Linked DNA regions of Homo sapiens. The protein of the gene in region 4 interacts with the protein of the main gene of each other region in a biochemical or structural test. Each region holds a gene or a part of one and is shown on either strand. Other genes may lie near its edges. The genes, in order: POLI, ATM, ESR1 and SMC1A.

Region 1 (7,395 bases), on a different chromosome or scaffold from region 4:
GTGTGATGGGAGTTTCACACTGTTGCCTGGGCTGGAGTGCAATGGCACAATCTCAGCTCACTGCAACCTCCATCTCCCAGGTTCAAGTGATTCTCCTGCGTCAGCCTCCCGAGTAGCTAAGATTACAGGTGCCCGCCACCACGCCCAGCTACTTTTTGGTATTTTTAGTAGAGACGGGGTTTCAGTATATTGGCCAGGCTGGTCTCGAACTCCTGACCTTGTGATCTGCCCACCCTGGCCTCCCAAAGTGTTGGGATTACAGGTGTGAGCCACCACACCCAGCCTCAAATCTCTTAACTACAATTGTGGATATTTTTCCCCTTGCAGTTTTATCAGCTTTTGCTTTATGTATTTTGAGGATGCATTAACATTTAGGACTATTGCATTCTCCTGATGAACTGACTCGTTTATCATTTTGAAATGATTTTCTGATTAAATTCCTTTGCTCTAACAAGCAGTTTTCCTGTTGAAAGCTATTACATCTTTCTTTTGATTAATGTTAGACTCGTGTCTTTTATCCAATTTTTACTTTTAACATATTTGTCTTTATTTTTTAAAAAATTTTATATACACAGCAGACAGTTGGGTCCTACTTTTTCATGCAATCTGATAATCTCTGCCCTTTAATTGAGGTTTTTAGATCATTTATATTTAACATGATTTTGATATGACTTAAATGTACCAACCTACTATTTGTTTTCTATTTTCCCCATGTGTCCTATTCCTCTTTTCTCTCCTTTTAAGCTTTTTTTGGGGATTGAATTTTGTGGCTTTTTATTATTCTATTTCTTATCTTCTTTACTGGCTTATTAATTAAAACTTATTTTGCTATTTCAGTGGTTATTTTAGGGTTTATATTATACATCTCTAACTTATCACAGTCTGTCTTCAAGATGTAACCCACCACTTCATGTTTAGTTTAAGGGCCTTACAATAATATACTACCATTTCTATACTTAAAATTATATACTTCCCCTCCTGGCCTTTGTACTGTTACATTTTACTCCCACATATATTGTAATCCTACAATATATTTTTAATAATTTTTATTTTTGTTTTATATAGCCAACTTTTAAAAAGACACTTAGAAATAAGAAACAAAAAAAGCTTTTAAATATACTCATATTTCTGGTGCTCCTCATTTCTGTGTGTAGATCTGTATTTCCATCTGGTGTGCTCTTCCTGCCTGTTGGACTTCCTCTAATTTTATGGGTAATGTAGGTCTACCGGGCATGAGTTCTTTCATATGTATGCCTTATGTTCTTATTTTCCTTTTTTTTTTAAGATATCTAAGTTAACCAACTTTTCCCCCACTTCTTTACTTTATTTGAGGATGTCAGACCACTGTCTTCTGGCTTCCAATATTTTCAAAATTGTTGGCTTTGCTTGTTTTTCTGCAATAGTATGTCTTTTTCAAGGGATGGTGTTTATCACTGGTTTTAAGAGCTCTGATTAGGTTACTCCTTGGTATAGTTTTCTTCACGTTTATTGTACCTGGGATTTGCCAAGCTCTTTGGACCTGTGGGTTTATAGTTAACCTCAAATTTGGAAAAATTTCTCCATTGTTTCTTCACATATTTTTTACATCTCCCACCCTCTTCTCTTCTTTGGGGACTTGAATAAGACATGTATTAGCCTGCCTGAAGTTGTCTCATAGCTCACAGATGCTGTGTTTATTATTTTTTCTCTGTTTCTTTCTGAATAATTTATTGCTCTGACTTCTAGTGCACTAATTTTTTCTCCAGCAGTATCTGCTGTTAATTCCATTCGGTGACTGATATGCAGTATGATACTTACATGAGATATTCAACATTTTATTATAAAACAGGCTTTTTTTGTTTTGTTTTGAGATGGAGTCTTGCTCTGTCACTCAGGCTGGAGTGCAATGGTGGGATCTTGGTTCACTGCAACCTCCACCTCCCAGGTTCAAGCGAGTCTCCTGTCTCAGCCTCCCCAGTAGGTGGGACTACAGGCGTGCACCACCACGCCCAGTCAACTTTTTGTATTTTGGTAGAGACAGGGTTTCACCATGTTGCCCAGGTTGGTCTCGAACTCCTGAGCTTAGGCAATCCACCAGCCTCGGCCTCCCAAAGTGCTAGGATTACAAGCATGAGCCACCACGCCCGGCCCAGGCTCTGTCAACAGGCTTTGTGTTACACTACTTTGCCCAACTGTAGGCCAACGTGAGTTGCTCTGAGTATGTCTGAGGTAGGCCTGGCTAAGCTATGATGTTTCATAGATGTATTAAATGTATTTCACTCATGATATTTTCAATTTACAATGGGCTTATCTGAGCATAACCACATTGTCAGTCAAGTCATACCTATATTTACTAAAGTAGATCACTTTGGGGCCATAATACATCTCAAAACTTATTTTAAAAGATTCTGTAGTAGGGCCAGGGGTGGTGACTCACACCTGTATCTCAGCACTTTGGGAGGCTGAGGCGGGCAGATCACGAGGTCAGGAGTTCAAGATCAGCCTGACCAACATGGTGAAATGCCATCTCTATTAAAAATACAAAAATTAGCTGGGTGTGGTGGTAGGTGCCTGTAATCCCAGCTACTCGAGGCTGAGGCAGGAGAATCACTTGAACCCAGGAGATGGAGGTTGCAGTGAGTCAAGATCACACCTTTGCACTCCAACCTGGGCGACAGAGCGAGACCCCATCTCAAAAAAAAAAAAAAAAAAAAGATTCTGTAGTATAATTGGTCTGGTCTTCGTTCAGGGTTCCTGGACACCAAGCTCCTAAAACCCATGGAATTTCCTAAACAACAGAAGTGCCTTCATTATTCATGGTAAGCCCTGACACTGTATGCTAATGATGTGACCCACAGTGGGCCCTAGACAGCTAATGCTAAAAAGATGATTTAGGATGGAGGTAGCTCACTTCAAAAAAACAACCATGATTAGGGTGTTGAGACTTTGAGCCAGCCTGATGTCCAGACAGAGGAGGGAAACTGGAGATTAAGTTCAAGCACACAGTAAAGGTTTTAATAAATCATGCCTACGTAATGAAACCCCAAAGAAAACTCTGGACTTCTTGATTACTTGATATGTTTTATTTCTTGACTTGGACAGTTACATAGTTGTTACAATTACTCATTAACATGTTCATTTATGTTTATGTACCTTTCTATATACAGATTTTAAAATAGAAGTTTTTTTAATATTGAAAACAATCCAGATTTGATGGAAGACACAAATCTGCAGATTCATAATGAACCTAAATCCATGATAAATCTATAGCTAGACATATAATAAAAACTGCGTATCTCCAAAGTAAAAGATATTATCTTAGAACAGCTCAAGAGATGTCAGTTCTAAATCTACAGCTCTAAGGACATAATTTCAGAAGGTATAAAGAATTCTACCTAGAAGGAACATCTGACACACAAGAAAAAAGGTAAGCCCCCACCATGTCCCATCAAAAAAATAAACATTGACTATATAAAATACTAATAATATCCAATTTGGAGATTTAATAAAGAACTTGTGGAATTTAATTAGAATTAATGTTATTTCAATACCTTTGTGTTGTTTGGAAAGAGGGTAGCATTTTTAGATGTTTAAGGATAATCAAAAGGACTTGTAACATTCACATTCCAAATCAGTAAAGGGAAAATATATGATTAAATAGAAAACCCAACTGATCCCAAAAGATAGGAGGAGAGATAAAGGTGGGAAAGAAGCACAACATAGAAAAAGAAATATATTAAAAAATAAGATGGCAAAAAATAAATCCAAATAAATTTGTACTTTGGCACTACAGTGGAATAGATACTTTTTAGAGTTCTCCTAGTACAAAACACTAGATCTTGGAGAAAAGAGACCTCTTAATTCATTGCTGGTTTGTACCATATAAGGGAAATCTCCAGGCCTACACTCAAGACAGAAACCCCCTCTACACTATACACTCAAGAGAGAAACAGAAAAAATAAAAATAAAAATACCCTCTACATTCAAGACAGAAACAGGAAAAAAAAAAAACAACAACAAACTCGAGCTGAAACAAAAGCAAGAAAGCAGCAGAAAGCATCAAGCAAGAAGCAAGCTTGAAAGATGGGGTTTATCCCTGGAGGCAGATAGCTAACAGCATCTGCCTGTTAGTTTGGAATTGACCTGCAGAGACAAAACCTTCGGCTAGTAGTAAGGGTCAGGGAGCTTACACTTAAGACAAGGCATTCAATCAGGATCCACAAAGGTGAATAGAGTATGCCAAGGAGTTTGTACCACCTCACCCAGAGAAGCAACGAACTCAAATCATACTGAAGGAAAACATACACAATTTAGGCCCTCTGTCTTCTCGCAGATTAACACATACTCAAGGAAATAAGTCACAATGATATGCAATAATAACCTTAAATGTAGACTTATAAAGACTTAAAATATTGAAATTATCAAAAATATCATATATTTGACTTTTAAAAATTAGAAACAGACTTACAAGGGACTGTAATGAGTAAACGGGAAGTTAAAAAGAATCAAATGAAAAATATATTTATTGAAATTAAAACCATCATTGTTTTAAATAGCAGGTGAGATGCTACTGAAAAATGAACTAGTAAACAGAAAGATAGAGCTGATGAAATTACCCAAAATGCAGTAAAGAGAAACAAGAGGATGAAAAATATGAGAAATTAAGAGACATGAAGGATACAGTAAGAAAGTCTATCATTTGTATACAGTCCTAGAATAGAGAAGAAATATTTGAAGAGCTAGTGGTTGAGAATTTTACAGAACATGAATTAAAAGATACAGGAAGAAGCCAGTATATACTAAGAATAAAAATAAATTCGCACTTCCAAATAATACAGTAAACCTGCAAAGCACCAAAGAAAAAAGAGATAATCTTAAAAACAGAGAAAAAAGATCCCATAAAAAAGTTGATTCTGAGGCCCAAAGATGTTGAGACTAACTTAAAACCACAAAATAAGTAGCGTAACTGTGACATAGCCCGTACATTCTCAATCTATGAAATGTATTTTTAACTATTTTGCTTTCTCTTTTTAAGCTGGCCAAAACCATTTACTTTGTTTTCTTAGCCATTTTTTCTTAAGCCCCTTCTAGCTGTCCAAGGTCCTGAAATCATTACAAGGACTATAAAATGTTTTAATGATTTACAAAAAGTTATATACCCTTTTCATAAGTTTAATTACCTTACTGGAATACTCATGTAAAAAATACTATGTTCCTTGATTCAGAGTACTAAATATTTGCATGGTGAACAATTTCTGATGTTCTTGCTTCAAGTTACTGTTCCTGATAACCTCAAACTACCTATTTACAATCCTTCGTGTTAGCATATTTTCAAATTCCAAGGAATCCAAAACTAAGTTAAAATTTCAGAGCTGGGGCCAGGAGCAATGGCTCACACCTGTAATCCCAGCACTTTGGGAGGCCAAGGTGGAGGATCACCTGAGACCAGGAGTTCGAGACCAGCCTGGCCAATATGGTGAAATGTCATCTCTACTAAAAATACAAAAATTTGCTGGGTGTGGTAGGGCATGCGTGTAATCCCAGCTACTCAGGAGGCTGAGGCAGGAGAATTGCTTGAACCTGGGAGGCGGAGGTTGTAGTGAGCTGGGATTGCGCCACTGTACTCCACCCTGGGCGACAGAGTGAGACTCTGTCTCCAAAACAAAAAAAGAAAGAAAAGAAAATTTCAGACCTAGAAGAAAGTATTTTTAAGCTACTCTTTGGTTCATATTTGTGTACTTTATTTTTAAAGTCTCTTCTTTAGATTATATGTGCAAAAATTATAAACTTGAGACCAGGATACTCCCATATTGGTGCTGAGGGATACTTTAGTATATTCTATAAACATCCTCTATGTCTTGCAAATTATATAATACATTCTCAATCTTATATCCAATTTTTAGTTTAGCAGGCAAAAGAGGAAGGCAATAACAATGGGAGAAAGAGGACATCCACCAATTTAGTAATGGTCTATATTTGTGGTTGTTATGACAACCTAATATCATCTCCAAATGTAGGGAAGATACAAAAACATCTCAGTGCTTTTAGGCCCTTCAAACTAGCTAGAAAGAAATGGACTTCTTCCATTATCCAGTATGCTTATAGGCCCATCACCTTGCCTTTCTGGTGTCCATCTTTCCCTTAATTTACTTGCACGGAGAGTTCCTTCTACCACTGTTCTCTATAACATATACCCTCCTCTCACTTTAACTCCCCACCCTGGCCCTAGCCAAACCATTCATTCATTCAATGTTTATTGAACGGCCTTTGTGTGCTGTGTATTGTGGTAGATTCTTGGTGTATGAAGAAGCATTAATTGAATATAAATTGCTTTGGTATTTTAAAAGTCAACATACTAAATGTAATGTAGTACTTTAGTCAAAACTATCTATATTTTTAATAGGTTAGTTGGCAGTAGGATTTGCTATTCAGCCTAAGAGGCTGAATTTGAGATATTCCACATTTCACAGGAAAAAAAAAAAAAAAATGTGTCCTTTACCATATCATTGCAACGATTTGGCTATTTTTTATATATAAACATATACATCTCCCCACCAATTCATGAAAAATATTCTATGTTGACCATGATATTCTTTTTATTGAAAAGTAATATAAAATGGCTTTAGACATAAAAGATAGTATTTTACATTATTTCTTCTGTTATATTTTTACGCTTTGTGCCAGAATTTACTTCTTGCAACTATTCTTGCTTTATCTGGAACAGTTTACTCCGTTATTGAATATCTATTAGTGTTTAATATAGAAGAGCTTAATAAACCGCTAATCCGAAAATAATGGTATTCCCTTGCTTTTCAGACCTTTTTGCTGAATATGCTTATTTATGTCCAATGTGGAAATCTGATCCTGCTCTCTTCCACTCTGCCAGCAGTTCCTTTTGTACTGCTTCTGGTAGTTCATAGAAAACTTGAGGATCAATGTCAGAAGGGAAAGTAATTTTCTCATCAACAGAATCTGGCTCTCTATTTTCTGTAAGTCCTTCATGAGAGTCTGTTGCTACTGTTTGCTTATGGCTATCTGTAGTGTGGTTTCTGGAGAAAAGTTGCTCACTCTGCAAGTTTGGAAATGAATGAAAAGCAGACACAGCAGGGTTTGAATTTGTAAAGTGGAATCCTTGAGGTTCTTTAGGTCCTTGACTTATTCGTTCATCTTTTAATCTATTATCTAAATAATATGAATAATCCTTTTGGCTAGACATGTAAGAAGAACTACTGCTATTAAAGCCTGATGTTCCCGGTTCACAAGGAGATACAGAGGATACCTGTTTGCTACTGGATAAATGATCTCTAGGATTTATGGGAATATCTTGCATTTGTTTTTTAGAAAAGAAAGATAATACTCCTCTAGAGGCATGTAATGGACAACTCACACTTCCTTTCCCTTGAAATTTTTCCCTAG
Region 2 (5,124 bases), on a different chromosome or scaffold from region 4:
AAGCCTCATAGTTACTCTAGGGCCCTGTTTGCCCTAGAGTATCACTTGTTAAGGAGAATCACTTATTCTCCTTAATTCCTTCATATATGTCCTATACCAAGAGAGTATTGCCCAGAAGGTATAGTGCTTTTCTGTAGTTAGGAACTTTATTGGCTGGAACTGGAGTTTCCTCTTGCTCTGTCTATGATTGCCTTTGGGCTTATACTAGCCTTTGGACCAACTCATCATGGCTAGTATAGTGACTTTCTTAAAACAGCATACCACATTGAGTAATAGCAGCTATAATGGAGGAAATGTCTTGTAGCCACTTTTTTTTTTTTTTTTTTTTTGAGACAGAGTCTCACTCTGTCGCCCAGGCTGAAGTGCAGTGACGCAATGTTAGCTCACTGCAACCTCCGCCTCCTGGGTTCAAGCAATTCTCCTGCCTCAGCGTTCTGATTAGCTGGGATTACAGATGCCTGGCACCATGCCCAGCTAATTTTTGTATTTTAATAGGGATGGGGTCTCACCATGTTGGCCAAGCTGGCCTTGAGCTCCTGACCTCAAACCATCCACCCGCCTCAGCCTCCCAAAGTGCTGAGATTACAGGCATGAGCCACTGTGCCCGGCCGTGTAGCCACTTTTTATCAAAAGTAGCTGTGTATTTGTTTTATGGGCTCTTCTAATAAGTATATCTAGATAATATGTAGCCCATGAAACTACTATAAGTGAAAGAATAGTGACTTTTAATAGTTTTTCATCTTTTACTCACCTCTTATCTCCAGGATGAAGATCAGGCTTATTAGGAGGTGATATGATATGTTTAGGGATTTAGTTAACTGCATATTTAGGGTGAATTTAAAATTGGCAGGATGATGAGGATGCCAGAAAAGCTAATGTAGTTTCAGACTACTTTAATAGATTTTGTAGTACCTTGTTTGTGAGAAATAATAGACCTTTTGTTTCGCATACTAGTCAAGCCACAGTTGGATTACCATGTTCACCAGATTTTGTATAGTCAGCATTTTAAGTTGACTGGAATGTGTCTTGGGAAAGATGACTGAAATGGTGAGAAGTCTGAATAATATGTCATTTTTACACTAGTTGAAGGAACTCGTAATATTTTTCTCTTAGGCCAGAAAAAGGCATACGGAGAACTTGGTCCTCATATGAAAGAGGGAACATATTAATTGTATTTGCCTCAGGTGGGAGAATAAATTGGAGAAAGACAGATTTTAGGTCAGAATATGGAAGAAATTTATAAGAAACACAGTTATCTAAATGTAAAATGGACAGTTATGAAATAGAGTTTGTCAAGGATCTTGTCAGAAGAGGCATTAGTACTGAATGGAAGGTTGGACCAGGTGTCTTCTAACGCTGATGCAGCTTGACAGCTGAATAATTTTGTGGGAGCTAGCAGTGTAAACAGAGTACATACATAAAAATTACATTTTAATTTTTTGGATTACAGGTGCTTATGAATCAACAAAATGGAGAAGTATTTTATACAACTTATATGATCTGCTAGTGAATGAGATAAGTCATATAGGAAGTAGAGGAAAGTATTCTTCAGGATTTCGTAATATTGCCGTCAAAGAAAATTTGATTGAATTGATGGCAGATATCTGTCACCAGGTACAGTAAGTAGGTCATGTCACATTTAGAAATTTCCTGTTAATTTTTTTTTTAAACTGGGCATTTTGGGCTTTTAAAACCTGTGTTCTCACAAAAAGCCTATAAAATGACTCTGTACATGCAACTATTCCTTTCAAACTATCAGAAATATTTGGAATTACCCTTTTAACTTAAAAGTTAATGCTTTTGCAGATATTTGAAAACTAACAATGAACTTTTTCATTCTTAAATGATTGTCTCTAGGAAATAAGGTGACCCTAACCCTAATGATTCGATTCGACTCGACTGTATTCTACAAAGTGCTGGGATTACAGGCATGAGCCACCAAGCCCAGTCTGTTTCTTTTTTGCAATTAAGCTAGAGTTCACATAGCATAAAATTCACGATTTTGAGTTGTACATTTCAGTGGTTTTTAGTATTTTTACTATGTTGTACAACCATCATCACTAATTCTGGAAACTTTTTTTATTTTATTTTTATTTTTTTGAGATGGAGTCTTGCTCTGTCACCCAGGCTGGAGTGCAGTGGCACAATCTCCGCTCACTGCAACCTCCCTTTCCCGGGTTCAAGTGATTCTCCTGCATCAGCCTCCCGAGTAGCTGGGACTACAGGTGCCTGCCACCACGCCCAGCTAATTTTTGTTTTTTTAGTAGAGACTGGGTTTCACCATATTGGCCAGCCTAGTCTCAGACTCCTGACCTTGTGATCCTCCTGCATCGGCCTCCCATAGTGCTGGGATTACAGGCGTGAGCCACCGTGCCCAGCCCAGAACTTTTTTATCATCCCAAAAGAAACCTCATCCCTTCTTAGCATTCAGTCCCAATTCCCTGCATCTCCTAGATCCTGGCAACCAGCCACTAATCAATCTTGGTTTTTGTGGATTTTCCTGTTTGGGACAGTTCGTTTAAATGGAATCATACAATATGTGAGTCTTTTGTGTCTGGTTTCTTTCACTAAGCATAATGTTTTCAAAGTTCATGTTTTACCATGAATCAGTACTTCATTCATTTTTATTGCTGAATAATATTCAGTTGTATGGATATACTCCATTTTACTTACCCATCCATCACCTGATGGCCTAATGTTTCTTAAATAAAACTCTGTTCCCCAGAGATTTGGTTAACATCCTGAGTAGTAATTTCACTCTGTCAAATATTTTCTTAATATTTCTTAAAATTTCTTAAATTTAAAAACTTGAATCCCTTTGAAAGTAAAGGTTTTTGCTTTACTTTTAGATTTCTTAGTGCTTTTAGTAAATGTTCCCAGGAAATAAAACTAATGCATTACTTGGTAATACCTGCTTTCTAAAGTGCCATTACTGTCATGCAAAATGTTTGTTTCTTACTATGTTATCAGATTTATATGTTTCTGTAATGTATTACTCTTGCTTTATGAGTTCCCTGTATCTTCATTTCAGAAAGAATTTTTTTTCCCCCTAATGAAATATTAGAAGACAATAGCAATGAAAAAAGTGTATTTGGCCAGGCGTGGTGGCTCACACCTGTAATCCCAGCACTTTGGGAGGCCAAGGCGGGCAGATCACCTGAGGTTGGGAGTTCAAGACCAGTCTGACCAACATGGAGAAACTCTGTCCCTACTAAAAATACAAAGTTAGCTGGGCATGGTGGTGCAAGCCTGTAATCCCAGCTACTCGGGAGGCTGAGGCAGGAGAATCACTTGAACCTGGGAGGTAGAGGTTGTGGTGATACGAGATCGTGCTGTTCCACTCCAACCTGGGCAACAACAGCGAAACTCTGGCTCAAAAAAAAAAAAAAGAAAAAAGTGGATTTATTTTTATTTTACAGGTTTTTAATGAAGATACCAGATCCTTGGAGATTTCTCAATCTTACACTACTACACAAAGAGAATCTAGTGATTACAGTGTCCCTTGCAAAAGGAAGAAAATAGAACTAGGCTGGGAAGTAATAAAAGATCACCTTCAGAAGTCACAGAATGATTTTGATCTTGTGCCTTGGTAAAGTGTTACCATTTTCTCATTCAGTGTCATTTTAATCTCTTGTATGTTATTTTTCAGAAAACTTTCAGTGGAATCCTTTCATCTCAACCAGAACTAAGTCATTTGTCTACCCCCAAACCTATTACTAGCAAAGGGATATGTGATTGCCATGACAAATGAGATCAATCATTAATGGCTCATTTGCTTGGGCCAAGTGCAGGGCCACCTATTTTAATCATATTGTCATAGCAAGTTAAGAAGGAGGACTGGCTCTCTGATAGGCAATTAGAAGTGTGCACCTCATGGAATTCACTGAATTGTACGCTTCAACAATAGATTTTAGCATACGTAGCACCTTCTAATAGAATTAGGAAGAAGTTAAAGATAATCTTAAGAAATCACAGAATAATTTTGACCTTATGCCATGATAAAAAGTTATTTTCTCTTATTTTCTATCTTCTTTATTCTCATGTAACGTTCACATATATTTAAGTAATCAAATAAATTATGGATACTTTGGAATCCCAAAATATTAGATCTGGTAAGGATGTTTAGAATTTATCTAGTTCAGCCTGTTTGCTTTACTGAAAAGAAACTGAAACCCAGAGAGGTTAAGCAACTTCTGTAGGGACAGAGATTTATAGATTATAGTCAAACTCGTGATCAGTGCTCTTTTGATTACCATGTTGATGGAATGTTTAAGTGTAAGTGACTTCTGGGGAAAAGCATATTGATTTAGATACCTATTGCTTAAGCTCATTTTTATATAGTTAAGAGTAGCTATTTAAGATTCTTAATTTGTCCTTTTAGTCAAGAGTAATTTATTGAACACCTGTTATGGGCTAAGCGTTAGATATACAGAGATGAATAACATAAGACTCCTATTCTTAAGTATCACACATTCTAGAGAATACACAGCAAATGTTTATTGGATTAACTGAATTAATGTAAAGGAAAAACAGTTTTTTGGGTTTCTTTGTTTTCCTGTTTTAGAGGAATCGTTTGGTGACTAAAGAGCAAGGATGTACAAGATAACTCAGAAATAAAATATTGCTAAATATATATATATATATATATATATTTTCTGAGACGGAGGCTCACTCTGTCACCCAGGCTGGAGTGCAGTGGCACAATCTTGGCTCACTACAACCTCCACCTCCCAGGTTCAAGCAGTTATCCTGCCTCAGCGTCCTGAGTAGCTGGGATTCCAGGCATGTGCCACCATGCCCGGCTAATTTTTGTATTTTTAGTAGAGACTGGGTTTCACCATGTTGGCCAGGCTGGTCTCAAACTCCTAACCTCGTGATCTGCCTGCCTTGGCCTCCCAAAGTGCTGGGAAACCACCTGGCCCAAATATTGCTAATTTAATATCCTTTAAAATATTTGTTTAAGGGAAACTTAACAGCTTACCCAGCTAGCCAAACGTTGACAATTTTCCTGCCAATTTAGGAAGTAGGACATAGTAACTATTAACAGCCAGTTTATTTTTAGAGTACTATGGAAATGATGGTGATTCTCTAATTAGGATATTGTAAGAGTACCATGTCTATATA
Region 3 (8,286 bases), on a different chromosome or scaffold from region 4:
CCCAAGCCGCCCAACAAGTCAAGGAGCCAAGAAAACTGCCCAGGAAGTAGTGCCAGGTAAGCACAAGTTGGCTGCTGGGGCCCCTAACTTGCCACCGTTTAGGAACAGGCAGAATGAGCCCGGGACCGAAGGATGGAAGACAGAACTGGAACCAAGGAGCGTGGACCTTAGGGCCCGGCCAGTTCTACGGCTTCTGAGAAGGAGATGAGAATCTGAATAACAAAACTGCAGAGGTCTTCCATTCCTCCTGGGGTTGACAACATTTGGGGAACTCTCAAAAAGAACCCACCTGAGCTTTTCAAGGGCTCATTTGGAAATGTCTAGTTCTGAACATTACTTAATGGATTTTATTAACTTTAAGTGAACTTTTATAATTTTCCCAAGTGTAACTCATAGGATCTCCAAAAAATAGAACATTACCAAACAAAGAAGTCTACTATCTTATTAAAGATGGCACATTTATTTAAAGTAGATATTATAAGAACAAACTAATTTGTCCCTCTAAATAGTTCAGAGGAGAGACAAAAAATTTTCAGTCTTGCTTGGAATTTTGGGTTCTTTTAAATTTTTTGTATAGCAATTATAGGTACTTAATAAGTTTCTAATATTATTGGTAATATCATTATTAAAATTTTCAGACTATGGAATTAGAATTCTAAAACAATGAGCCAAGTAGATTTAAAGGATTGGATTTCTGTATAGGATGAACATCTCCAGGGTCCATAGGAGGCATCCAGAAATACCACCTACCCAAACTGAGACAAAAACTTCATTTTCATCATCATCGTCATCATCAAAATCATGGATCATTACCACCACCACATCACTTACAAGCGGGTTGTAAGAAAGTCATACTCTTTCTTATTTGCCCACGTTTCTTGAAATTATTACTTTATTAAACTACATAAAATTGTGTCAGTTGAGACCAGAATAGTTGTCATTCTGTGCTTCCTATATTTTTTGAGGTGATCTAAAAATATACACATAATTTAAAACATTGTTGATTACTGCAAAACTTTCTTCAGAGTCCCTCCTGATATTATCCAAGGCAGAGAATTCAGCAATTATGGTTTCTTCCCTCATGAGATTAAGGATATTATAAAGGTGCTTCCCGTAACCTCCAGCCCACTTAAATTCTGGGATTTCAGAGATCAGTATGAGTATATTTTAGAGACGAAGTAGCGAACAGCTCAGACATACTTTTTTTTTTTTTGTAAGTGACATTACACGTCAATTCACTGGCGGAGTTTAAAATATAAAACCCCTCAATAACTTTGGTGAACTGCCTCCTTTCCATGAAGTCCCTTACACTTTCGCTTTGGCTGGTTTCAAGTGGCTGTATTTTTTGGATTAATAGAGCATCTTTCTCTGGAGTATGCATATGGTTCTAAACAAGTGTAGCCACTCTGTTTTCCTTTCTTTAGATAAGCAAACTGAGACAGAATTAAACCAAAAGACTAATTTGCTCCTCTCCATTCAAAGTTGTCTGGAAAAGAAAGAAACACACTTAGCACGCTGCTCTCTCTACTGGGTTCTTCTAAAGTTACATTAAAAATAATAATGAAGTCACAGGGAGGGGTTAAGATGTATTAATTTCATGCTGAGTACGGATTTTAGAAAAATATAATTAAAATTCATATATTTCCTTATGTAAAATTGTTTACACATAATCAGGGTTTTGACTTTCTTTAATGTATCTGTAAAATAAATGTTCTTTATGATAACCTGGTAAGCCAGGCTGCAGACAAATGTTGCAGATGGTGATAAAGATTTTACTTAAATTTGACTTTCACAGGAAAAGATTTCATATAATCATCATTCTATATTTATAACAAAATTCCTGACCACTTAAATCTGTTATTTCCCAGCTTTTTAGCCTATGAAAGCACCAAAACAAATATTAACATGTGAGTAAAATAATAAAAACACCTAATGTTTGTTTAGTTTCTATACCACTTTCACATATACAATCTCACTTAACAAAGTTACTATTGTCTCATCATTCATTAATGGTAAGTCTGGCATCTTTTCTAGTTTTTCCTGATATCTATGGTTCCTCCCCTTGGCAGTTTCTTACACCTGTCTTACATATCCTTAAAACTATAAGAAACTAAAAGAAATCCCAAGCCGCCAAAATTCTCAAACCTGAGAATTTTCCCAAATTATGAATGTCATAGACTAAGTATAATCACAAAAGTAAATAACAACTTTAGCCAGGGATCCAAATTAAATGAGTGTGAGAAAGATTAGAATAAGTGGCAATTATCCTTCAGGAGCTTTCTTCCAAACAGGTACAAGCCACATGGAGGAGGTGAAAATGAAATGGGGATTGAAGATGTGATTCCGTTTTCATCCGAAAATATGCTCATTCACCAGGGAATATGTGACTCTGGACTATTCTTAGACCAGCACAAAGTGTCACGTAATCAGTAACAATTTAAATTAATAAAAAAGTAAGATCAGAAAGGAAGGGGGCTGAAATGTTATCTAAGTAAAAGGAAAAATGTATCGGAAACTTGAAACTTAGTCACTTAAATCTCACTTTGGAAATCAGTCTCTATTCAAAGTTGAGAAAGAGTTTCAAATGATCACCAGTGGAAAAATTAGTTGTCCAAAATATGCAGATGGCCAGGATACAAATTAGCAGGGCATTGATTTTGATGCAAAAGATTTATACATTTGCCAAGTTTTTTGGAGAAGTGAGAGACGTCTAACTTTTAAGAATACTGAGTAATAAAACTGAAATAAGCATGCAGCATTAAATTCCTAATTAGAACTTTAAAAAGGATAGTTGATATAGTTAAGCTTCATCTTTAGTTTTATTCAAAGTTCCTAAGTTGTTTGAAATCTAAAAAAGGAACCCAGGATAAGATGACTCCCTGTTTCCTTCATTGTGAAATTTTGAGTAACATCTTGCAAAATCTCAGCTTGCCAAGTAACAAATTTATATTAATAACAATTTGCTGGGACATGTGACAATCTTTCTCACATTATTATGCGTCCAGAGAAATTTTATCTATTACATTTCTTCACACATAGATGTGGCTGCATATTATGGAAGAAATGGAAGAAGGTAACCACAGCATCTCAATGCTAAATGACGTGACCTTCACATAAATTCTCTGAACATCCAGTGGGACACTCGGGAGGACAGTCCACATGACAGCACCATTCTACAATAGAAAAGTTAAGAATCAGATAGTAAAACTTAGCCTAAATGACTAAAGACACCAACCTAATTTATAAGGGGAAAATGAAGACAATCAAAATAGCCTTTTGATTTGTATAGGTAAAAACAACCAGCCACTTGCCTGAATTTTTTGTTTTCTACTGAACATATAATATTTTAGGCCATTAGCTTTCTAATTTTTTCTTTGAATTCAATCCACAGTAAGAAATACATTTTACATCACAATCAGCACACAGAAGCACATATAATTAAAACAGATTTTCAGGAAACAAAACTTATCCTTACGAAATACCATGCACTCTGATATTTTCTATTATATTCCTTTCCATTTTAGTCCTTTTAAAAAATATTCTAGACTCACTAAACTGAGTTCATGACCCTCTGGGTCATGACAAGCAGTTTGAAAACACTGCTTTCAGCCCCAAAACTTTTGAGAACTACTTAAGAAACTTAAAGTTTCCTAAAAGAGCCCAATCAATCCTTTCCTTTATACCCAGAGTCATTTAAGCAGAAAAACTGAGAGGGGAAAAATACTAAATAATATCTGTCCATATGAAGAACTTGCATAGATGCTTCTTTTCCTTGCTGGATAATAACAGGCAGAATTCTAACAAAAGAGGAAAGATAATCCGGGAAATAAAACACAGGAAAAATCATTCTAAAACTGAATTTCCACACAGAGTCCCATTTGTGCAAGTTTTTTTTTTAATTTTTAAGTTCCTTGTCTCTTTTTTTATTATTCTAAGAGTGTTTGAATATCATGTAATGCAGAAAGTGTAAGATAGGGCATATTACACTGATACCACTTATCACTGGGATGATGAACAATTTTGAATAAGATGCGATCCCCTCTGTATTTGACCAGGTTCACTTTGTAATTATTAGCAAGGCAGTAAATAATCTACCAAGGAGCAGTCTCATTAGTGCCCATTGAAATTCAGCAGCATTAATTTGCAATAAAAGAACTGAAAATTAAATAGGGAAGAAAATGGTTTCTGGAGTCCATCATAAGGTTATGGAATTCACATCATACCAGTGCCTTCCTTCACATCAAGCAGTTTTAAATGTTGTGTGGAATTAGACTTAATCGCTGTACTTTGTTCTTCCATTTAAAAAAAAAAAGGTGGGCAGAAGAAATCCTTTTTCTCTGTTTTAACCCTAAATTAAAACAAGTAAAATTAATTTGAAATATGCCAACCTTTAAAAGTTTTGTTCATTGTTTGTCTTTTGAGTAAAGACAGCTTGGATCTGCGTGGCTGTGGGATGCTCTAAATTTCTCCAAGGCGGCTGAAGATGCACACTGAATACCCCCAGAATCTGCCCTTCAGTATCCTCTGGGGCCAAACTGCACTTTAGTCCCCTTCCTTCTGCTATAAATATCCCTGGAAACAGAATACTGAACAAAAACTGGTCCACGGCTTACAAGGCAGAAAGATATAGGGACACCAGTCCGGATACCAGTGTACAGTTGGGAAATGCCTAATTCAGGACCCAGCCATGTGGCGCCCTGAAGCTTCCAAACCCAGTCCGGGGTACACCTGTCCTGTGGCCACCTAGGAAGGTGTTCACCAGAAGCGCCCACCTAATCCCTCTGCAGGCCCATCAGGAAAACAAAAAACAAAAAACAAAAGGAGAAACTGGGCAAGAGAAAATGGGAGGGAGAGGAGAGGGAGAAAGAACAATTCTTGTAGGGAAAAAAATTAAAATGAGGACACACAACCTTCGCCATTGAAGTCACAAAGTGGTCTCCTGTGTCCTGGACCGGCCGCGCTCCTTCCACAGTGGCTGCGAGGCGCAGACCCTGGCTGACCCGCACGCCACTCCGGGGCATTCTCCCCGGGTGGGACAGGCTTGTCACTGGGCTGGCAGGAGATTATTTTTAAGCACTTGTGCTTCCATATGGCTTGTTTTAAACTCGCGGGACACCTACAAATTTCCGGCTGTCAGAAGTCACATGCCAGCAATCCGCTCCAGCGCGGACTCAGCCAGCTAACTCCGAAATCAGACCCATTCAACTCCCAATCGCTCTCTAAAGCCCCAGGACGTGGGGTGGGGAGGAGGGGAAAGCGGGTGACAGGAATCGCTTCCCAGAAAGTCATCATCATAGCTGACATATTTCCAATCAAATAGTCTAGATGAAAGGAAATTTGGGGAGCACATTAAACAAAAACATTAAAAGGATAAATAAAACTCTGCTGAGCTCTGCTAACTCCAAACACCCCCAACTTTAAATGCCAAGAGCGAGACCTTCCCAAGTGACTCAAAGCGCCCCGTGTTTATTTGCCTGGAGGTGTTTTCCCCCACAAATAACTGCTGCTTTGTCTGGTTTTCCAACGTGTGTTTTGTTAGGAAGCCCGGGCTTTCGGGTCTGCCTCTCGCACGGACGGTAAGTGGGTGGAGAGTACGTTTTTTTCAGCTGCCCGGCGAGAGAACTTGACTCTGAACGCAGCGCGGGCTGCACGCAGAACCCCCGGGCTGGGCCGCGCGCCCCGGGCTCCCTGCGCGCACCCTCGGGTCGCGCGTCCCGCGGCTCCCGCAGCTCCCTAGGCTCTCCCTTCTCCCTCCCTCCCTCCCTCCCTCCTGCCGGGCGCGGCGGCCACCCCGACGGGCGGCGCGGGCGCGGGTACCTGTAGAATGCCGGCGGGCCGGCCTCGCGCACCGTGTAGCCGCTGGGCTCGTTCTCCAGGTAGTAGGGCACCTGCTGGCCGTGGGGCTGCAGGAAAGGCGACAGCTGCGGCGGCGGGTGCAGTAGCATCAGCGGGCTCGGAGACACGCTGTTGAGTGGGGGGAAACCCCCCAGGCCGTTGGAGCCGAACGCCGCAGCCTCAGACCCGGGGCCGTAGGGGAGGCCGGTCTGACCGTAGACCTGCGCGTTGGCGGCGGCCGCGGCGTTGAACTCGTAGGCGGCGCCCTCGGGGTAGTTGTACACGGCGGGCTTGCTGCTGTCCAGGTACACCTCGCCCAGGGGCCGCTCCAGGGGGATCTTGAGCTGCGGACGGTTCAGGGGCTCCAGCTCGTTCCCTTGGATCTGATGCAGTAGGGCCATCCCAGATGCTTTGGTGTGGAGGGTCATGGTCATGGTCCGTGGCCGCGGGCAGGGTGCAGACCGTGTCCCCGCAGGGCAGAAGGCTCAGAAACCGGCGGGCCACCTGGAAAAAGAGCACAGCCCGAGGTTAGAGGCGACGCAGCGCATGTCCCGCCGACACGCGAGCTCTGGCCCCGGCCCTGCCCCGGGAGCCTGCGGGTCCGGTGAAGCCGGGCGACCCGACGGGAGCAAGTGCAGTCCCAGGACGAACGCCCTCCGCCAGCTCCTGGGCTCCCGGGCCTCCAACTTTAAGTACTGGTCTCCCGAGCTCATATGCATTACAAAGGTGCTGGAGGACGGCCAGGGACTGTTGCCTTGCCCTGACATTGGCTTAAACATCACTCCAGGCACAACTCGATTTGGAGCGATCCCAAAGAGCAGCTTCCCTGAACTTTACTTTACTTGTCGTCGCTGCTGGATAGAGGCTGAGTTTCACGGCCAGGGGGCGGGGGCGCACGAGGATCTGCTAAAGGTGGCCCAGGGAAGACTGGGCTTAAAATAAACGCGAAAGACGGATCCAGGGGCCGGCTTTCTCTAATGTGCTGCCTTATGTGCCCCGTGCCAGACTCCGATATATCTCTGTTTGTCTCTCTTTCTGTTTGATTCCCCCTCCTCGTTGGCTAGAAATACGTAGTGTGTACATAGGATGACCCTGGGGAGGACTACACTGTAACCGAGATAGGGCAGATAGAATGGGGTGTGCGGTTGCATACGCAGCCAGCCACAGACAGCTATATTTAGCAGCTGGGGGAACTGACAGGGGGCATCTGAGGGGAAGGGGGCGGAGATTCAGGGTATACATATAGGAAGAGCTGCATTTTGCCATCAGGAGAATGCAACCTGCCAGGACCTCAGTTTCTTCCTCTGCAAAATGCTCCCAAAGTAGATAGACCCTTCCACAACCTTCTGAGATTCTCTCAGCCTGACTTGTGTGTTTATGTTGGACCACAGTACTGTACTTGGTCCCATTAGGAATTCTCATGTGAAGGATGATTCAGAAAAACCTTTGGTTAGGGCGCACATGGGTGTTCATGCCTTCCACAGGTTGGTTATGCAACCAAAACTTCAGAAAACTGAATATAAAATGTGACCTTTTCATACCAAACATAACCTCAGGTCACGAACCAAAGCTTTGGCAATTATGTTACATTGTCGGTCTGGTCCAGCTAACAGATTTTTAAAATGCATTTCTGCATGTCTATCCTTTAGTCCTACAACTCGATCTTCTCGGTTCACTTGGGCTAGGATATGCAGAATCAAATATCCAGATGAAAAACAAATAGAAAAAAGTTTTTAACTGAATTAAAAGTTAAACATGCACACGCACATACACACACACATATATGTGTATATATATATATATATATATATATATACATATTAAGGAGACAAAAAATAGGTGAAGTATATCATGCGTCTATAATCTTGGATAGTTTATACTTTTGAATAAACTTCCTTTGCTGCAGCCTAATAGACTCTGATACAACTATCAATACTTTGTTTTAATTGCTATCCCAAACACCCAACAGAGTATCTGACGAAGTGTTCATGGTCTATCTAAATGCCAAGCTTACTGTTACTAAGAGTTACATTTTTGACTATTTTATATCAAGTATACATTTTATCTAATTCTTACAAAAATAGACCATTGTTGGACAATATGCAAATGTAGCTGAAGCCAAAATCGAGTTTAGCATTAATGACTATAGATTGTCAGCAAATAAAGGGTTAAAAACACATTAGGTGCATCGCAGATATTTCCCTTTATGGCCAGCAATCATTACTTTCCAAAGCAATTTTTTACAGATGATTTAATTTCCATAAATCACACTTTCAATTTTCAAATGCCTTTTTAAAACACATGCAAAAAGCACTTCATAGGGCTCTTAAAAAATGTGAACCTGCCAAATTATATGCAAATGGCACAAAGAATCCTACAAGTCCTGAAAGAAAAAGGAGACACACACATACCCCCATGGAGAACAGCAATCCTCATCTCCCTGCTAGGATA
Region 4 (3,500 bases):
GGGGATGCCCGCATCGACCGCCAGGAGAGCAGCCGCCAGCAGCGAAAGGCAGAGATAATGGAAAGCATCAAGCGCCTTTACCCTGGCTCTGTGGTAAGAGCAGAGAGGGAACTCATTTCCTGAGCACTTACACTCACTGTCACACGATTTTCCCAGCAGCCCTGTAAGGACAGGGTTGCCAATCCCATTTTTATTGTTGGGGGAAATGAGGCTCGGAGAGGTTTAAAAAAGCACCGCTTCTAAGAGGAAGAACTGCAGTTCAAACCCAACTTGTTCTCCTGAGCTCATGTTCTTTTTTTTTTTTTTTTTTTTTTATTTTTCAACCTGTCATACTAGGCAATCATGTTCTTTTCATCATACCAATTGCGTCTTTCTGAAGGTTTTGTCTTGCTATGTCTATGCCTCTGGGAGGGGAATTGGAAAACCAGGAAAGATTTTGGAAGCAGGTGGGGCCATGGGGCTGGAATTACTCTCCCAGGAAGTAGCTCTGTGCAGTCTTATAAAGGGGCTCCCTTGGCATGTATTAACTGGTCCAGTAGCTTTTAGGGACACCCTGAGCTTTATCAGATCTCTTGATCTTTTGGCCTCTTTCACCAAATCCTGAGTTCCCAGGTTCCCTGAATATTATCCCATACCTGGGTTCAACTTAGTTTGGTTCCACTAATATTTCCCTATCACTTCTCTAGACACTGCTGGGGAGATAAGTATGGTTAGAGTCAGTCCCTGCCCCCTTAATCTGATAGTTCTTAGGGAACCAGGCTTGGTTTTGGAGGCTGCAGGAAGGGAACTGGTAGAAGAGATTGATTGATTGATTGATTGATTTTGAGATGGAGTCTCGCTCTGTCGCCCAGGCTGGAGTGCAGTGGCACAACCTCGGCTCACTGCAATCTCTGCCTCCTAGGCTCAAGTGATTCTCCTGCCTCAGCCTCCCAAGTAGCTGAGATTACAGGTGCTCGCCGCCATGCCCAACTAATTTTTTTGTATTTTTAGTAGAGACGGGGTTTCACCATGTTGGCCAGGCTGGTTTTAAACTCCTGACCTCAAGTGATCTGCCCGCCTCGGCCTCCCAAAGTGGTAGGGTTACAGGCGTGAGTCACCACGCCCAGCCAGATTTATTTTGCTAAGTGCTTGTGAGAATTTGAAATAATATATATAAGATACTTGGCATAGTGCCTGGGTGGTGGTGGTCTGTAAAATGGTAGATGTGAGGTTTAGAAAGATGATTCTGGATTCAGACACGACTGCCTGAAGTCATTGCTTGGGAACCAGAATAGGCTTTTCCTTGATAGCATGGGGGCTGTGTTCTTCTGTGAGATAGGAAAAAACCAAAGTGTTTTTTCTACTCTCACAACCAGCACAACACTTCACTTCTGACACCAGAAGTGTGGGGGTTTTTCCTCACACACCAAGCAATTCTCCAGCAGACACCAGCTGGGTGACCTATAATTCACTTCAGCTCTGACACTATTTATCTGGAGATAGCATCAGATCCTGTGGGTTAGGGGCTCAGTCCAAGACTTCAGGTGCCAATTGCAAGTCTCAGGTTGTGACTTGTGGTTCTGACTGACCTGCTATAAATTACAGTTCCCGAGAATCCCTCCCTGGGTTCGATTAATTTACTAGTGCAGCTCACAGAACTCAGGAAAATGTTTTACTTATGTTTACCCATTTATTATGAAGGATATTACAAAGGATACAGAGAACAGCCAGATGGATGCATAAGGCAAGGTATGGGAGAAGAGATGTGAAGCTTCCATGCCCAATCTGGGCAAGCCACCCTCCAGGTACCCCCACACAGGGGCTTCATTATGTAGTCATGATTGATCAGATCATCAGCCATCGGTGATCAGTTCAACCTTCAGCCCCTCTCCCCTCCTGAAGGTTGTAGGGGTGGAGCTAAGAGTCCCAAATCTAATCCTGCCTTGGTCTTTCTGGTAACCAGCCCCTATCCAGAAGCTATCTATGGGCCTCCAGCCATAATCATCTCATTAACATACAAAAGACACTGCTCATTCCTGAGATTCTAAGGGTTTTAGGAGTTGTGTGTCAGGAACTCACGGGTAGAAGACTAAATATATATTTCATAAAACCACAGTCCACTTTGATCTTCAAACACAGATCCCTTACATCAGAACAATCATGTAATAAATAGAAAGATGCTGGGAGCGGTAGCTCACGCCTGTAATCCTCGCACTTTGGGAGGCCGAGGCGGGCAGATCATCGGAGGTCAGGGGTTTGAGATCAGCCTGGCCAACATGGTGAAACCCCGTCTCTACTAAAAATACAAAAATTAGCCGGGCATGGTGGCGGGCACCTGTAATCCCAGCTACTCGGGAGGCTAAGGCAGGAGAATCACTTGAACCTGGGAGGTGGAGGTTGCAGTGAGCCAAGATTGCGCCACTGCACTTCAGCGTGGGCAACAGAGTGAGACTCCGTCTCCAAAAAAGAGTAGAAAGATACTGGCACATTACTAGAATCCCACTGAGTCATTAATTAATAATTAGTCTAGTCCATGATCATGTCATGTAAAAATGTCTCCTAGGGTGAGGCCATTCAGGTTTGCAGGCTTCTATTCAATCTTGTTAGGTTCCAAAACCAGGAGTGTTCTCGGCAAACATAGCTTCATACTTTCAGGCATCTGGGATAATTGTGCTAAGAGACAATATCATCTCTTGCTCTGAACCTCTTTTGAGGTGTTAATGTAATACTGAGTTTCCCTCATTACATAACTCATTTATTCATTTCTTTACCTCCCTTCTCTTACCCAAACTTTTCCACCTTTCAAAGGGACGTTAGGATTGGCCACTGTGCTGATCTGGAGTGCACACAGCAAGCTAGTCTGCAATTGCCTCCTCCTCAGTCCATACAGTCTCATTCAGATAGGGTAGGGTTGCATGGGTACAGAACTAGTGGGCTGTCTTTTTTGTTTGTTTTGAGACAGGGTCTCATTATGTTGCCCAGGCTGGTCTTGAACTCCTGGGCTTAAGCTGTCCTCCCATTGCAACCTCCCAAGTAGCTAGGATTACAAACACACACTACCATGCTTGGTATTGGGTTATCTTAACCACTAGGCAATACAGTTGCATTCACTTCCTGATATAGATTCTAGTCTGTCCCCCTTTCCATACTGGGAATTAGGATTCCTGAGCCAGCTTCCAAAAGCTTCATACTTCAGTTTTCCCTTCCTACTTTACTCAGTACGGCCGCCTCATTGACCTATGCCAGCCCACACAAAAGAAGTATCAGATTGCTGTAACCAAGGTTTTGGGCAAGAACATGGATGCCATTATTGTGGACTCGGAGAAGACAGGCCGGGACTGTATTCAGTATATCAAGGAGCAGCGTGGGGAGCCTGAGACCTTCTTGCCTCTTGACTACCTGGAGGTGAGGCTTGTTGGGGATTGGGTCAGGCCAGTGTTCAAGGGCCCCTCCTCTAGTACTCCCTGTTTGTGTTCTGCCACTGACTGAGCTTCTCCCCACAGGTGAAGCCTACAGATGAG

Evidence for each region.
Region 1: the proteins of SMC1A (region 4) and POLI form a complex in vitro, tested with the Homo sapiens proteins (one large-scale study listed by BioGRID).
Region 2: the proteins of SMC1A (region 4) and ATM form a complex in vitro, tested with the Homo sapiens proteins (2 studies listed by BioGRID and IntAct, with this or other methods).
Region 3: the proteins of SMC1A (region 4) and ESR1 form a complex in vitro, tested with the Homo sapiens proteins (one large-scale study listed by BioGRID).

The regions. Positions count from the first base shown.
Region 1 is NC_000018.10:54,293,887-54,301,281, reverse strand, and holds the end of POLI (DNA polymerase iota isoform a (long)), read right to left. Parts: coding exon 6,815-7,395; 3' UTR 3,048-6,814; downstream 1-3,047. UniProt on the Homo sapiens protein: Error-prone DNA polymerase specifically involved in DNA repair. Plays an important role in translesion synthesis, where the normal high-fidelity DNA polymerases cannot proceed and DNA synthesis stalls. Favors Hoogsteen base-pairing in the active site.
Region 2 is NC_000011.10:108,245,514-108,250,637, forward strand, and holds part of ATM (serine-protein kinase ATM), read left to right. Parts: intron 1-1,450; coding exon 1,451-1,614; intron 1,615-3,419; coding exon 3,420-3,589; intron 3,590-5,124.
Region 3 is NC_000006.12:151,805,896-151,814,181, reverse strand, and holds the start of ESR1 (estrogen receptor), read right to left. Parts: upstream 6,501-8,286; 5' UTR 6,270-6,500; coding exon 5,818-6,269; intron 5,076-5,817; exon of another isoform or gene 4,911-5,075; intron 1-4,910.
Region 4 is NC_000023.11:53,405,655-53,409,154, reverse strand, and holds part of SMC1A (structural maintenance of chromosomes protein 1A), read left to right. Parts: coding exon 1-93; intron 94-3,198; coding exon 3,199-3,384; intron 3,385-3,389; exon of another isoform or gene 3,390-3,482; coding exon 3,483-3,500. UniProt on the Homo sapiens protein: Involved in chromosome cohesion during cell cycle and in DNA repair. Central component of cohesin complex. The cohesin complex is required for the cohesion of sister chromatids after DNA replication.